Linked DNA regions of Homo sapiens: regions 1 and 3 are each linked to region 2. Evidence: fine-mapped expression QTL. A gene starts in region 2. Each other region holds a variant in brackets. All regions are shown on one strand. Distances are between the middles of the regions. Region 1 has its middle 19 kb from the start of ABAT. Region 2 holds the start of METTL22 (methyltransferase 22, Kin17 lysine). Region 3 overlaps METTL22 (methyltransferase 22, Kin17 lysine).

Region 1 (5,224 bases), 34 kb before region 2:
GAGATATGTTAATAGCAGGAAGATCTTTCGGTATATTTACATGCTGGAGAGTAAATATTTTCAAAGATCCCTCACAGCATCTCAGGATATCCTTCTGACCGATGCCAAGTATTCACCTGAGGATATGAGGCATACCATGTCCACCTAGCTCTTCTGGAGCCGAGGAGCAACCGGGCTTCAGCCAAGATCTTTGAGATTGAGCCTGGGGACTTCCTCCCCATTCCCTGTCTCCTTCAGCTTTGCAGTGGCTTGTAGTGTTTCTTTACCATGAGGTGCACATTTCTGAGCCTATATCCCTTGGGTTCTGGATGAGTTTGCTTTGGTAACAAATGACCACAAACTGGGGGATTAAAACAGTGGAAATGGATTATTTCAGTTCTGTAAACCAGAAGTCCGCAATCAAGGTGTCAGCAGGGACTCACGCCTCCAAAGGCTCAAGGGGAGGGTTCTTCCTTGCCTCTTCCAGTTTCTGGTGATCCCGGGTGCTCCTTCATGTGGCAGCATCACTCTGATCTCTGCCTTCATAGGCCATCTTCACTGTGGTTCTCAAATCTCCCTCTCCTTTCTCTTATAAAGACATCAGGGGCAGAGCACGGTGGCTCATGCCTATAATCCCAGCACTTTGGGAGGCCAAGGTGGGAGGATTGCTTGAACTCGGGAGTTTGAGACCAGCCTGGGCAACATGGTGAAACCCCGTCTCTGCTAAAAACAGACAAAATTAGCCAGGCATGGCGTCACACGCCTGTATCCCAGCTACTCAGGAGACTGAGATGGGAGGATAGCTTGAGTCCAGGAGGTTGAGGCTGCACTGAGCTATGATCACACCACTGAACTCCAGCCTGGGTGACAGAGAGAAACCTTGTCTCAAAAAAAAAAGAAAGAAAAGAAAAGAAAAAAGAAGGACACCAGTCATTAGATTTAGGACCCGCCCTAAATCCAGGACGACTGTCAAGACCCTTAACTTAATTAGATCTGCAAAGACCCCTTTCTCAAATGTTTCCAAGTTTCCCATTCATAGGTTCTGGGGTTTAGAACGTGGACATAGCTTGTTTAGGGCCACCATTCAACCCACTATAGTTTCAAAAAGGTGGAAAACATCCTTTGTCTTCAGTTTCTCAGGACTGACTGAAATTGTTTTGAACTCCATATAGTAGACGAAAAGGAACCTGGTTTTATGGGGGACAAGTCTTCCTGCCTTTAGTTAAAGAGGGACAGGACAAAGGCTGAAACCACAGGCAAAGCTATTGTTGGTGTTTTGCAAACTTCAGCCCCCAAGATCACCATCTTTGTGACATTTGCTATTCCTGCTTCCCACTTACATTATTACTTAATATTGTATTTAACTACGCACAAATTATTAACTTAGCCTCAACCGAGAATAATATCCTTCATGTCCCTGGTTTTCAAATGCAAGATACATTTTTCTCCCAGAATACACAAAACAGGGCATGATGGTGTGGTTCAACAACTGGACTAGCTTGGAGGGTGACTTCAAACAGGTTTTGTGAGGTCTTGTAATGACATCGATCCTCCCTGAAGTGGCATCTTCCTCTCTTATCTTGCTGTAAGAAGGGCTCAGCTGTGGTTTAGATGTCTGTTCCCTCCCAAACAACTCATGATGAAGTGTATTCCTATTGTAACAGTATCAAGAGGTGGGACTTTTAAGAGGTGATTAGGGCAAGAGGACTCTGTGGATTAATCCTGTTATCACCAGAGTGGGTTTGTCTTCTCGGGAGTGGGTTCCTTATAAAAGGACGAGTTTGACCCATGTTTACTTCTCTCTCGTTCTCATCCTCTCTTTACTGTTCTACCATGTGGCGCCTTCTGCTGTGCTATCATGCAGCAAGAAGGCCCTTGCCAGATGCTGGCCTTTAGCTCTTGGACCTCCCAGCCTCAGAACTGTGAGCCAATACATTTCTGTTAATTACGTTACCCAGTCTGTGGTGTTCTGTTATAGCAGCACAAAATGGAGTAAGACAGCTTCCTGGGTTGTCAGGAGGGCATTGGAGCCGCAGGGCACAGCCCAGCCCAGGCCAGCACTGCTGGAACATCACTCACTGCAGATGAAGGTGGAGTGACAGGGACTGGCTGCTCTCCTGCTGAGGTAACTGGAGTCTCAAACCTCCTCTCCCATCTTCACAGCCCACACAGCTGTTTTCTCAGAAGCAGAGAATCTTACTCTGCAAGTTCACATTAGAATCCCTGTGTCCCAGGTTTTGCCTAGTGGCTGTGCTGGAGCTTAATCTTTGCTTCTCCAATAGTTAGTTGTGCAGTTGGTGCCTGAGGTCTACTCACGCAGGTCTGTGGGGGAAGTGGGGAAAAGGCCCTCAGGGTACAAATAAAATCATTTAGGAAGTGGGGGTGGAGGAAAGGACTAATCCCTGGAAGTGGCATCCTGCTACATACATGTCAATAGGATAAACTTCAAAATGCTTTTCTCTTAAAACCTCTCTG[C/A]GCCAGGAACAGTGGTGCACACCTGTAGTCCTAGCTCCTTGGGAGGCTGAGGTAGAAAGACTGTTTGAGCCCAAGCAGTTCGAGGCCGTGGTGCACTATGCTCATGCCTGTGAATAGCCACTGCACTCCAGTGGGCAACATGGCGAGACCTGTCTCTAAAACAACAACAACAAAAACCTGCCACATACCACTGGTATCCTAACTCGCCATACTTTGGAGAACACTGTGTTAGAGCAAAGATGTGGTCATCAGGAGAATTTACCTTGGTGGAGGGCATGGTGGTGAGTCTTCAAGAACTATGTCTTGTCAGAAGACACAGTCCTCCAAGCCAGAAAGCTAGGCATCACCCTCAGCCCTCTCCTCTTCCTGAATCCCCCAAATGCCTCAGAAATAAATCTTAGTTTGCACATTTAGGTGGATAATAGATTGAACGGCTTTGTTTAGAAGAGCACCTGGATGGAAGTTGGTGCTCAATGGACATCAGCTGTGGGTATGAGAACACGATCTCTGCATCACAATGCTGGCGGGCTTGCCCACTTCCTTCCAGATTCAGTGCCTCTTCAGGGCAAGGATGTGTCCTTTGCATCTCTCTTGTGGGCAGCCTCTGAGATGGTCCCCAGTGATCCCACCTTTGGGTATTCCCACTCTGTGTAATCCCCTCCCCTTGAGTGTGGGCTGGACTTAGTGACTCACTTCTGAAGAACTGAATGTGACAAAAGTGACGGAGTGTCACTTCTCAGATTAGGTTACCTCCCAGTAAACTCTCTCTATTCTTGTATGCTTGCTCTGAGAAAGCTGCTGTCATGTCCTGGCTTTATCAGAGGCCCCCTAGAGAGGCCCACATGGCAGAGAAATGAGAGAAGTCTGTGGTCAGCAGCCAGTGAGGAACTGAGGCCCTTAGACCCATAGCAGGTGAGGAACTGAATCCTGCCACCAACCACAAGAGGGAGCCTCAATGTGGATCCACTCTTAGTTGAACCTTCAGATGAGACCACAGCTGAACTCCTTGTAGCCTTAGCAGAGGTCTTAAGACAGAGGCACCCAGTTAAACTAAGCCCAGATTTATGACCCACAGGTACTGTAAGATAATAAATGTTTGTTGTCTTAAGCTTCTAAGTTTTGGGGTATTTTGTCATGCAGCAAATAGATAATACAGTTCCTTTCCCCAATGCCCCACACAGGGCTTGGCTTATTTTAGAGTCTTCTAACTATTGGGAAGAGGCCCAGCAGGTTTGAGTTACTCCCTTTTTTCCCTTCCCACATGGTGGCTGGATTTATGTCCACCTTCAGTTTGCTGCTATGTCCATTAGCGTTCTCTGTAAAAATGTAATGGGCTAGAAACATGGATAAAACTTATGGTGGAACTTCAGCCTTTAGTACAGATCACGGCCACACTCCCCTGGGTCTGGACATGACAAATTTCCCACTGGGGAACCAGACAACATGGAGTTCAGATGAGCCTGGCATAGTCTCATTCTATGCATTCTGAGGCTCAGTTGGAGGAGCACCAAGCCCAGGGTCTTGTAGCCCCAGACCCACCCAAGGGATGATTTGCCCTCTGAACTTTTCTCTGAGTCTTTCTAGAACCTTTGGGCTAAAATAAATTTTATTTCCCAAAAGCTTGGCTTGATCTATCTGTTTTCAAATACAGCTCTTGTTAGAGAGTAGCATTTTGGCTGTGTGTGTATGCATGCGTGCATGTGTGCACATGTACTTAATTTCTTTTAACTTTATTTTTAGTAAAAAAGACACAAAAATAACCCATGTTTGTAAAAACAAAATACATGTATATAACATAAAGGGCAAAGTCTCATCAATTCCATTCCCCCAATTCCATGCCCTGGGGTTAATCAAGGTTAACCATGTGGTATGTAACTTTCCACCTATAAACACATACCTTAGAGCTGCCATTTATAAGTTATGTGATGATGAGCAAATTACCAGGAGTGGTGAAGAGCCTGGGGGATAAATTCTTAGACTATAAAGCCAAACTTCTCAGGTTCAAAGCCTGGCTCTATCCCTCACAACTTATGTGACCTTGGGAGAGTTACCTGGCCCCCTTGCCTACTCCCTCCTTAGTTTACCCATCTATGAAGTGGGGCCTCACGTGAGTGGAGGGATATTTACTGAGCTAATGTATCTAAAATGTTTAGGACAGTTGGCTATCACCATCTCGATCCTCTGAGATCTCCCATTTTGCTTGAGCCTGTTTTTTCTTTTTTTGAGATGGGGTCTTGCTCTGACACCCAGTCTGGAGTGCAGTGGTGTACTCATGGGTCACTGCAATTTCAGCTTCCCACATTGAGCTTGGTTCTGAAGTCAGGCTTTCCACAAAATTCTTCCCTGATATCATCCTTCTTCCTGGGTTCTCACTACCCAGGTGTTTAGATATAGGAGATGGTCCCAGTGTTCCTGTCTCTAAGTCCTGGTCCTACTGAAACGTTTCAGTAGCTTGAGCCTTGGAAATGATGGGGAAGCAGGTTTAACTAACTGAGTCTTAGTTAATTAAGGCTTTACTATGTATGGTAGCTTTAGAATAAAGTTGGATTTTAATCATTACCACTCAGCCACTTAAAATCTCCAAATCCTTCCCATGGGAAACCAATTCAAGATCCACTTCAACCAGGCATCTAGTAATCAATAGAGACTGATTGCCTTATTAATTTGTACACTGAACTTTACTTGGCTTTATTTCCGCTGCCTTTAATCACTGATGAAAGAATAGTTTCTTCTTCCATGTTTTATACCCTTTCCATTCATCCCATCAATA
Region 2 (5,224 bases):
CAGGGGTTGCAGTGAGCTGAGAATGCGTCACTGCACTCTGCACTCCAGGCTGGGTGGCAGAGCAAGACCCTGTCTCAAAAAGAAATTAAAAAAAAAAAAAAAAGAGTGAGTGGATTTAAAGGAAAAGTAGTAAGGGAGTCACTACACTGGTGATACACAGATATGGCAAAATTATGCAGGTGACACATTAATAACTAAAACTTGGAAAACCATGGCTGAGGCAAAGTGGTCAAGAACAGGTGGGACCTCCCTCCAACCGTTTCACCTAATCAAAAAGCATCATCAAACAGCAGTAGTCTGATGGGCTTTGAAGCTGGACAGACCAGGTGGGGATCCCTGGTTTCTCACCTTCTAGCCATGTGATTTCAGGAAAATCACTTCGCCTCTCTGCATCTGTTTCTTCAGCCACAATCTCACGCAGTGTTACTGGGTGGGTAAACTGCTGAGCAGAGTCCTTGGCTCACAGTAGGTGTTAATAAAACACCAGCAACCTCCTTGTCCTGGGGTTGGTTTCAGGTATTTGACCCAAACCTGCCTGTAACCCCTGACTGCCTATAGGAGCTGTTCCTACCTGGGTAGATGTCATGAAATCTTCAGGGCCCCCACTTCTTCAACTGCAAAATGAGGTCATCATGACTCAGGCTGTCCTAATGATCCCAGTACACTGCTGGAGTTCCTACATTTAAGTGGTTGCTGTGGGGCAGCAAAAGCTGTCCCAACAAAAAAATTTTTAAGAAAAAGATGATTCCTTATTCATCTCCATGCTAGCTTTCCTACTCAACACCATAAAGCCATCAAAATGCAAGTGGGTTGTAAAGAAAGTCTGTGAATCTGGCAAATCAATGCAGAATTTCATGGTGTCATTGAAAGTGATGGAGAAATGCTGGACCTGAAGGCCAACACTCAATCAATCGGACTGGCAAAACCACACCAGATTCCAGAAGAGAAAATACAGCTTATACCTACCACTCATTTCAAAGGCAGATCAAGCTCTCTCAGGACTTAGAGATGTCCTGGGGGAAAACTGAGGACTTTCACATACAGTTTTTTTTGAAGGGGGTGGGGAAGATCCTCTCTAATATTGCTGTAAAAATCAAAAGTGAACCAAAGGATGCCATTTCTTTTTTTGCCATAGCGCATTTTTTTTTTTTTTTCTGAGACAGAGTCTCACTCTGTTGCCCAGGCTAGAGTGCAGTGGTGCCATCTCGGCTCACTACAACCTCCGCCTCCTGGGCTCAAGTGATCCTACCTCAGAGTCCCGAGTAACTGGGACTACAGGCATGCACCACAATGTCCACCTAATTTTTGTATTTTTAGTAAAGATGGGGTTTTGCCATGTTGGCCAGGCTAGTCTTGAACTCCTGACCAAGGTAGATCCATCTACCTTGGCCTCCCAAAGTGCTGGGATTATAGGTGTGAGCCACCAGGCATGGCCTATAGCGCAATTTTGTTGGAAAACTTACATCCCAGAAAAATCAATGTTCTTTGCTTTTTCCAAAAGTGAGCATAATATTACACACCAAATTTTAAGTATAGACACACACAAAAAAACTCAAATTCTTAATCTCTAGTTGAATTTTCCATTTTTAAATTCAACCCAACCAGGCTTCCCAAGAAATGTACGCTGCAATGTAAGTTCCAGATGAAGGAGATTCCCTTTAAGTGGCTTTCCCTAGAATCAGCTATCTGGGAATAAGGAGGCCCTCTTGAACCTATCTCAGGCCCTCATATACTCAGAGGAGTATATGAGACAATTACCACTTTTCGGGCTTACGACATATAGTAAACGTTCAATAAGCAACAATAGTAAATACTATCATTATAGTAATATAATAATGATTAAAGTGAATGCTGGGAAGAAAGAAAAAAGGTAACAGTTTCTCTAGTCAGGAAAAGTCTCTTTCCGGAAATGCAGGGTCTGTATGGGCTTCGGGCTCCTCTCTTTACTGGGCAGAGCTGAGAAAGGAGACCCAGGTTGCAGATGGGGACCTGCCCCACCACCTCTCCATAGGGCTGCAGGCTCATCCCTGCAGCAGGAGCTAACGTGTTCTTGGCTCTTCTAAGGCTGTGGGGGCTAGACTGAGACGCTACCAGCTTTCTTCTCCTATAGGTCCCCAGTCAGTTGTCCCAAATAAGCAGTGTGCTGGGATCACGGTGTTGAAATAACTTCCCTCCTCATCTTTCTTTCTGATAACTGCAACTCACTCAACAATCAATAATTTGGCGCGATCCCATGACGATTTAGGCCAGGAGCTGGGGAGGGCAGGGTGTGAAGGCCCAGGCTGGGGGCAGGAAAGACGTGGCCTGGCCACGGTGCGTAGAGTGGTAGTGAGGGGCTCCGGGGACGTCCCCCGTGGGGCTACTCGTTCTCTTTGTCTTGTCGCCTTCCTGACGCCACCCTTGTGGGTTAACTATTGCCCTCTCAAAAAACAGTCACAGGTCGGGCACTGCCCTCCCTTCCTAATCTAGAACCGAAGGAGAGGTGCCTGGACCCAGGATGGAAACCCAGGTGAGGACGTGGACTTCTTTCCCCAACACCCGTGTTGAGAAGGGGAAACTGACGCTAAGAGTGGGGTCGGGCCTTAGGGATCTGGGCCTCCGATCTGTGGGAGCTCGGATTTCAAAGTCAGGCTCGGCGCCAGGAGGTTCCCTGCACCCTACCCTATCCCGCCGCCTCTCCCAGGCACTTACCCGCCGCGGGGCCCAGCCTGGGATCCCACCCGACTCCCGTCTCTGTGGGACTTAGGCGGCCGCCATAACAGGCGGTCTGCGCAGGCGCGGCCCCGCCCCCGCGTGCGACCATCCGACTGCCCCGCACCGTGGCTCCACCTACCTGCCCGGGCCGCGCATGCGTCCGAGGGTTGCCGGCGGGCACCTGTAGCCTTCGCTCTGGTCGCGGGCGAGGCGTGTTTGCTGGGGGGACCCGCCTAGGTGGCTAAACTCATTCCTCTAAAAGACTTAAATAGGAGTTAAATAACTCTCCCAGCTACTAAGTGGTAAAGCCTGGATTCGAACCCGGGGTGTGGGATCAGAGCCGGTGCTATTTAACCAGCATGCTACTGTATTTATTATCACGGGTGTTACCGTCATCCATGCTCTTAGTACTCGTTTGTTTGTTTGTTTGTTTATTTGAGATGGTCTTGCTCTGTCACCCAGGCTGGAGTGCAGCGGCGCAATTTTAGCTCACTGCAGCCTTGAACTCCTGGGCTTAAGGAATCCTGTTTCAGCCTCTCTAGTAGCTGGGACTACAGTTGCGTGGCACCATTTTTTTTTTTTTTTGTACAGACTGTATCTTGTTGTGTTGCCCAGGCTGGTCTCAAACTCCTGGCTTCAAGCAGTCCTCCTGCTTCGGCCTCCTAAAGCTCATAAATTACAGGCATGAGCCACCACGCCCAGCCAGTACTTGTTATTATTAATAGGTGGTAGTGATTTCATTAGGTGGTAGTGATTTCGTTAATTCGTATGCTCATCAAGTTTCCAACACCAAGGGGGTGAGACAGAGTGGCAAACATAAGACTCCATGTTTGCTCGTTTTTTCTTGCCTGCAGAATTTCAGAAAGCCTCTGAGTCCGTGACTGAGCACAGCCCTCAGAAGAATCCCCTGAAGAGGATGAGCAGGATAGACCACAGATTCTCACGTCTCTTGCCTGAGTCACTGCATTTTTAGAAAAAGTACAGTCAATAATATTGGCCCTTTTCTCAATCTATATATTCAGTGACATCATGGAAGTCAGCCTGGCCACAATGGAGTAAGCCAGGGGATGGGCCGCAGGAAACGAGGATACATAGGTAGCCAGGGTTAGAACTTTTGTGACATTCTAAGAACTTTGGATTTTACTGTGCGTGAGATGGGGAGCTGCCAGGGATATACACCACACTGACGTGTTCACAGACATGCCCAGACACACACAGTGGTGCTCACTCTCAGACATGTCAGTGAACATACAAATATACACACAGGAACATATGTAAAGTCCACATATGTAAAATCTATATCCCTGTGTGTTCACATATACACACACGCACACACATGGCCTCAGCTGGCAACCTTTGTCTAAATTACTTTTTTTTCTCTTTTCAAAATAGAATTAAATCAACATCAATTTCATGGTTACTGATGATAAAACGTGGAGAGTTGATAGGGTGACTAAGCGACACAAATAAGAATTTTTTTTTTTTTTTTTTTTAAGAAACAGATTATGTTTCCTGAAATCCCCCAGGACAGTACACAGAGAGCCAGTTGGGTGTCTTGGGACCAGATTCTATTCATAGTTTTCTCTCTAGTTCGCTGAGGGTTCTCTTAGTTATCCCCAGAGGATGTTGAGTGGTGGGGAGGGCACTAGGAAGGCATTGTTCACACCCTTGGGAGTTTTGTCTTCAAATTTAAACCGGGGGAATGACCCTTAAAAATCAAAAGATCACATTCCTCCTCTTGTCAAACCTATAATCTTTTATAGGGGATTAGTGCCCCTACAAAAGAGGCCCCAAAGAGCTGCCTCACTTCTTCTGTCATGTGAGGACACGGCAAAAAGACAGCCATCTATGACCAAGAATTGGACACAGAATCTGCCAGTGCCTTGATTTTGGACTTTCCAGCCCCTAGAACCATGAGAAATGAATGTGTTTATCAGCCACCCCATGTATGGTATTCTGTTATAGCAGCCCAGATGGCCCCAAAAGGGTTATCATTTCTGCCACAAATTTTGAGGTGGTTTGCAACACAGTAATAGGTCACCAGGTAAGGGGAAAGAAAGCCAGCCCTTCTTGGCAGGGCTGCAAAGAGATGGTAGCTGGGGGAGTGCGGGAGGGGGCCCTCAGTTCCGGAGCCTCAGTTATAAACAAGGCACACTGCTGGCCCCTTCATCTTGTGGTTTTGTTTCATTCTCACACCCATTCCGAAGCTCAGAGAGGTGAAGTGCCTTGCTCAGTGTTACCTAGCCAGTGAGACGCAGACTCACGTTTTCTTTTCTTTTCTTTTTTCTTTTTGACAGAGTCTCCATTTGTCGACCAGGCTGGAGTGCAGTGACGCCATCTCAGCTCACTGCAACCTCTGCCTCCCTGGATCAAGCAATTCTCCTGCCTCAGTCTCCTGAGTAGCTGGGATTACAGGCGTGTGCCACCACATCCAGCTAATTTTTGTATTTTTAGTAGAGACGGGGTTTCACCATGTTGGCCAGGCTGGTCTCAAACTCCTGACCTCACGTGATCTGCCCGCCTTGGCCTC
Region 3 (5,224 bases), 23 kb before region 2:
GAGCTTGGGGAGAAGCGAGTGTGGGCAGGGACAGTGCATGGAGAAGCCAGGAAACCTGAGCTGCAAGGGAGGCGGAAAGGGGCCATGAAAGGCCCTGGTGCAAAGTGTGCGGCAGCAGCAAGGCAGGGGAAAGGGGCTGCAGGGAGGGCCAAGGGTAGCAGGAAGATGGGACCAAAACTGGAGAGAAGGAGAGAGACAGTGGGACATAGAGGATGACAGGAAGGGGTGGAGATGGGAGGAGAGAGGCACAGATGGAGAAGATAAAAAACCAGACAGACAGACATGTACACACGTGATAAGACAGAGAGACCAAGGGGCGGAGGGAAAATGAGTCCAGGCGGAAGGGAACACCTCTGAGGAAGATCACTGCACAAACCCTGGTCAGCTGCACATGACCCCAAAGAGTGGCTCTTAGGTTTATTCCAAACGTACCTGATTTGGGTGATAAAGAGTTAAAATTAAATACAAAGGCCAATGCCAGTCCATTCCTGGCGCCAGCTCCTGCCTCTTCCTTCTCATGGGGCCCTCACCAGAGTGATGGGGTGGAGCATACCCAACCCTGGGAGGAAATGAGGCTTTTGTGCCGAGCGGCAATATGATGGCAATACTGGCAGTGGTAGTCAACCCATCTGTAAACAGCTGACAGAGGGCAGTACAAGAATCCACCTCACAGCCAGGGCCGCAACCGCAAGTAAAGCACACAGCTGAAATGACTGACGTGGGTGGAACTGAGCTGAGAAGGAACGTGGCTCGGCTTGACCCTGGAGCACACATCACAACCATGAGAAACAGGCAACTAAAGTGACCTCCAGCCCACAGCAACAACCTTCTCTGGCTACAACTGGGAGGCAGGGACAGACCCCAGAAAACCATCTTGGGTCATCTAAGGTACGTGTAACCATATTTTTAAAATGACAAAATCTCAAGCATGTTGCTTTGGTGAGCTTCTGATTTTACTAGAAATACACTCTAAGAACAGTCGAGACGCCGCGCCTTGTGGAGGCGATGGGTCATGTTACTGGTTCTGCGATGATCTTCCAGAGCTCCTGCAGCAAACAGAGAAAAGAACAGGTTTCTGAAGTGCACATACAAGAGCATCACAATTTCATTAAGGAAAGTGATTCACCAAGGAGAGTAGTTAGACAACACGTCAGCCACGGAGCAGGCGAGCTGGGGCAGGAGCGGACGGGCGGCTTCCTCCTTTCTTTGTTGCTCTGGGCTGTTCTATTTTACTGTGGCAGAGAGGCTGGATGGATGAAGTCCCAGCATTAACGGAAGGTGCATCAGAGGATGTCAAACAATCAGAAGAGACCAGAATAGCAGTGAGTTGCCGTATCTCTCCATTTTGGGGGAGATCTTTATAAACAATTTTATTTTAGAGACAGGATCTCATTCTGTTGCCCAGTCTGGAGTGCAGTGGCACCATCACAGCTTGCTGCAGCCTTGAACTTCTGGGCTCAAGCAATCCTCCCACCTCAGCTTCCAGAGTAGCTGGGACCACAGGTGTGCACCACCATGCATGGCTAATTTTTTTTCTTGATTTTTGTCGAGATAGGGTCTGTGATGCCCAGGCTGGTCTCGAACTCCTAGCTTCAAGCAACCCTCCGACCATGGCCTCCCAGAGTGCTGGGATTACAGGTGGGAGCCACCGTACCTGGCCTTTTTGGGACGTCTTAGGCATCATGTATTGGGGCTGCTGACTTGTAAGAAATGTGTGTTCTTGGTCATGTGACGCTACTCTTAATGCTGCCCAGAAGTGGCAGAGCAATAAATACAAGATCCTCCTCGCACACAAAACCACACGAATTCCATGCTGCCCTCCCTCAGGACGCGAGACAGAGTGCAAGGGCGGCAGCTCCTCGTGACTCCCTCTTCCTCCCTTTTTCCTTAGAACTAGGCCCGGGTCTCCACAGACATAGAGAAAGGGAGGCCACAGCCAAAAGGCAAACAGAACAAAAGAAGTTAATTCTCAATCTTTGGACTCCAGTTAATAGAAAAGCCAGTTCAGTCCGAGAGGGGCTGGTATCCTTCCACAGTGAAGATGTGAGCAGCGGCCACCACAGCGGGGCGCCTGCACCAAGATCTGCAACCCACAAACTTCCCTCCACTGACTTCCTGTTCCCCAAACAACCTCTGCCTCGGTCTTGCCTCCTCTGGAGTCTGAACTGTCCAACGGGGGGAATATGTGCTATAAAGTAAAAGACAAGGTTCGCCTGTAGGCCCGTCTCCAGACATGGTGGCTGCTAAGAACAGGATGTAGCTCCCCCAACAGGTTCCACTACAGATGGTGCCAGGCACGCAGGCTTCACCCCCTGCAGGACTAGGGTGGAGCCTGTGCTTGGAGGGCTTGCTTCATCACCTCTTTGCCCTGGAGTCACCCGCTTCACAGTAAAGCAACCAACGGCCCTGCTTCGGGGCCTGGACCTACCAGTTGCTGGAGGCGCTCGTAAACCAGGAGCTGTGGGAAGGAGGCCTCCACGGGCTCCACCACGAAGCGCAGCTTGCCATCTGCGAGCTGCTCCAGCGCGTGCAGGCAGGAGCGGAAGTGATCGTAGGCTTCACATGTGACGTCCAAGTGTCTCAATGTGAAGTTGAGCCTGCAAACCAGCCAGTCGGACGCACAAACTGCCATCATCAATGGGAAGGGTTTTGCTGTTTCTGCCCACCTTGCTTTCCTATCCCTCACTGATCTCATATCCCCTGGACGGGCTTTTACTGAGCGCCTGTCTCATGCTGAGTGTGTGAGTGCAATTCCTTCCTACATCTGCACGACAGCCCAGGAGGTGGAAGTGGATAG[C/G]ACTTTACAGATGTGGAAACAGGCTCAGAAAGCTCAGGTCACGTGCCCACAATGACACTGCTGGAAAGATCAAGACAGTCCTGCAGATCAACACTTGAGGACGCCCTCCAGGTCCTGCCTGCACCCAGCACAGAATCTGGTGCCTGGAGCTGCGCATAACTATCTGAGAAATGAATGAATGAGAGGCAGTGGCAGGGGGCGGTGCAGAGGACTCCGGGAGCACAGAGAACAGAGAGAAAACTGCTGGGAAGCTGGGGTCTGAGAGATTTCAGAGAGTGAGCACCTTCAGAAACAGGTCTCCCAACCCTGCCACTTGCCTTTCAAAACCTTAGTCTACAAGATGGTTTCACTTGAAATTAAAGCTCTTTGCCTTTTTCCCTTTTCTTTCCAAATTTTTTTATCAAGAAAAATTCCAGACATGCAACAGGAGTAAGAACAGTCTATGCTGGGCGTGGTGGCTCCCACCTGTAATCTCAGTACTGTGGGAGGCCGAGGAGGGCAGATCACCTGAGGTCAGGAGTTTGAGACCAGCCTGGACGACATGGTGAAACCCCGTTTCTACTAAAAATACAAAAATTAGCCAGGTGTGGTGACGCATGCCTGTAATCCCAGCTACTTGGGAGGCTGAGACAGGAGAATGGTGTGAACCCGGGAGGTGGCGCTTGTGCTGAGCCGAGATCGCACCATCACACTCCAGCCTGGGCTGACAGGGCAAGACTCTGCCTCAAAAAAACAAAAAAAACAAAACTGTCTAATGAACCCATTACCAGCTTCAGCCACTGTCCACTTCCAGCCACTCTGCCACCTTGGCTCTTCCCGGGGCCCCCTGCCCTCACTGAGTTATTAAAAAGCAAATGCCAGACACCAACCCATTTCCTCTGTGAAGCTGGAAATGTCAGTGTGTGTCTCAAGAAGATGAAGACCTCTTCAACTAAAGTTTAACAATCACCCTTTAACATCAAATATTCAGTATTCAACTTTTCCCAACTGTCCTGATGTTTTTCCTTTACAGTTTATGAAATCAGGATCCAAATGAGGTCTGTACATTGCTATTGCTCAGTGTGTGCCTCAAAGCAAGCCCTCGGTATTATTGGTATAAGTAACACTGCAATAAATATGCAAGTACATACAGCTTTGTACACAACCCTGAGTGTGAATTTCCAGATGCTGAATTGCTGGGTGAAGAAGTCTGTTTCGTTTTACAGCTTTTGCTGTGGATTCCGAACGATCTTCAGAAAAGCTGTGGACTACTGTTAAGTATTACAGGAGAATGTGTGTAGCTATCACAAGGTGGGCACTCAATAAATGGAACCTAACATTTCAGGATATTCTAGTGGAAATGTCTGGGTGAGGCTGTTGGGTGAGGAGCTGTCCGATTCAGCAAGAGAAAGAGACCTGGGGGAGCTGAAGAGACAGACGGCACCACAGAGAGAACATTCAGGAAGAGAAGCTCTCAACAGTGTGTGCTGGCCAAGCGTTGAGGTTCCAGTACAGTCTGCATTCAAGTCCTTGTCTATCACTAACTAGCCGTGCCCTGGCCAAGGCCCCTGATGCTTCCCAGCCTTCCTCTCTTCATCAGTCAAGTGGGACAGCAGCGCCTGCACACAGGGCTAGGATGCAGATTCAGTGCAGTAACGTACACAAAGGATGAGCACAGACCTGGCACATAGTAGGTGCTCAATAAGTGGCACTGAGTAACAATCATAATGACACTGACAAGGACACAATTAGGAGGTGAGAGTTCCGCTGACACTCGGGACGTCAGCACGGTTCCCGTGGCGCAAAGCTCACCTCTTCTCCACCGACAGTATGGCTGTGCAGGCATTTTTCAATCTGTGGGCGAGTCGGGAGAGCGTTTTAAACACAGCATCAGTCAAGTCGTCGTCGTAAAACACTGTGGGAAGCAAAAAGGCCAGCATTAGAGGAAAACACGCAAATATTACAGAAATCGACTTTTCAGAGCAATCCGCACAGAGAGAATGCTTATCACCACGGAACAGCAGCAGCTTCCAGAATTAAAACTGCAGATGTGGTGGCATGTACCAGAAAGTCACTTCTAAAACTGAACTCCCGGGGGAAGTGAGGAGAGACTGCACTTGACTTCATGCTACAACAAAGGACGTGTACGGCGAAGGAGAAATTTTCTTACCTTCGGCTGCAAACAGGATGGTGGTGTGATCGTACAAGTCAGAAATTTCCTCTTGTGACCAACTGAAGGGGACCTTGGGATCTAAGAAAGAACAAAAGCACACTTTGTGCCCATTGCCTTCTCTCCTGGCCACCAACTCTCACTGGGACTGACCAAAAGGCACTTCAAGAGAAGAAACAGGGCTGGGGGTAGCTCGGTGCAGTGGGCACCACCAGGCAGACCAGACTCCCTGCTTCAGGCCCACTGCTGCCCGGGTGCAGAGTCATGGTGGAAGAGGT

The links.
Region 1: its variant is fine-mapped to the expression of METTL22 in skeletal muscle (FUSION, PIP 0.95).
Region 3: its variant is fine-mapped to the expression of METTL22 in whole blood (INTERVAL, PIP above 0.99).

What each region holds. Positions count from the first base shown.
Region 1 is chr16:8,653,477-8,658,700 of GRCh38, reverse strand. It overlaps a transcript of METTL22 not described here. Among named protein-coding and RNA genes, the nearest start is that of ABAT, 19 kb to the left of the region's middle. The variant C/A (reference allele first, on the strand shown) is at 2,455.
Region 2 is chr16:8,619,243-8,624,466 of GRCh38, reverse strand. METTL22 (methyltransferase 22, Kin17 lysine) reads right to left here and starts at 2,769. Exons shown (of 11, transcript NM_024109.4): 1 at 2,692-2,769.
Region 3 is chr16:8,641,930-8,647,153 of GRCh38, reverse strand. It overlaps METTL22 (methyltransferase 22, Kin17 lysine), which reads right to left. Exons shown (of 11, transcript NM_024109.4): 8 at 4,947-5,027; 9 at 4,589-4,691; 10 at 2,429-2,597; 11 at 1-1,046. The coding sequence ends at 1,011. Among named protein-coding and RNA genes, the nearest start is that of METTL22, 23 kb to the right of the region's middle. The variant C/G (reference allele first, on the strand shown) is at 2,798.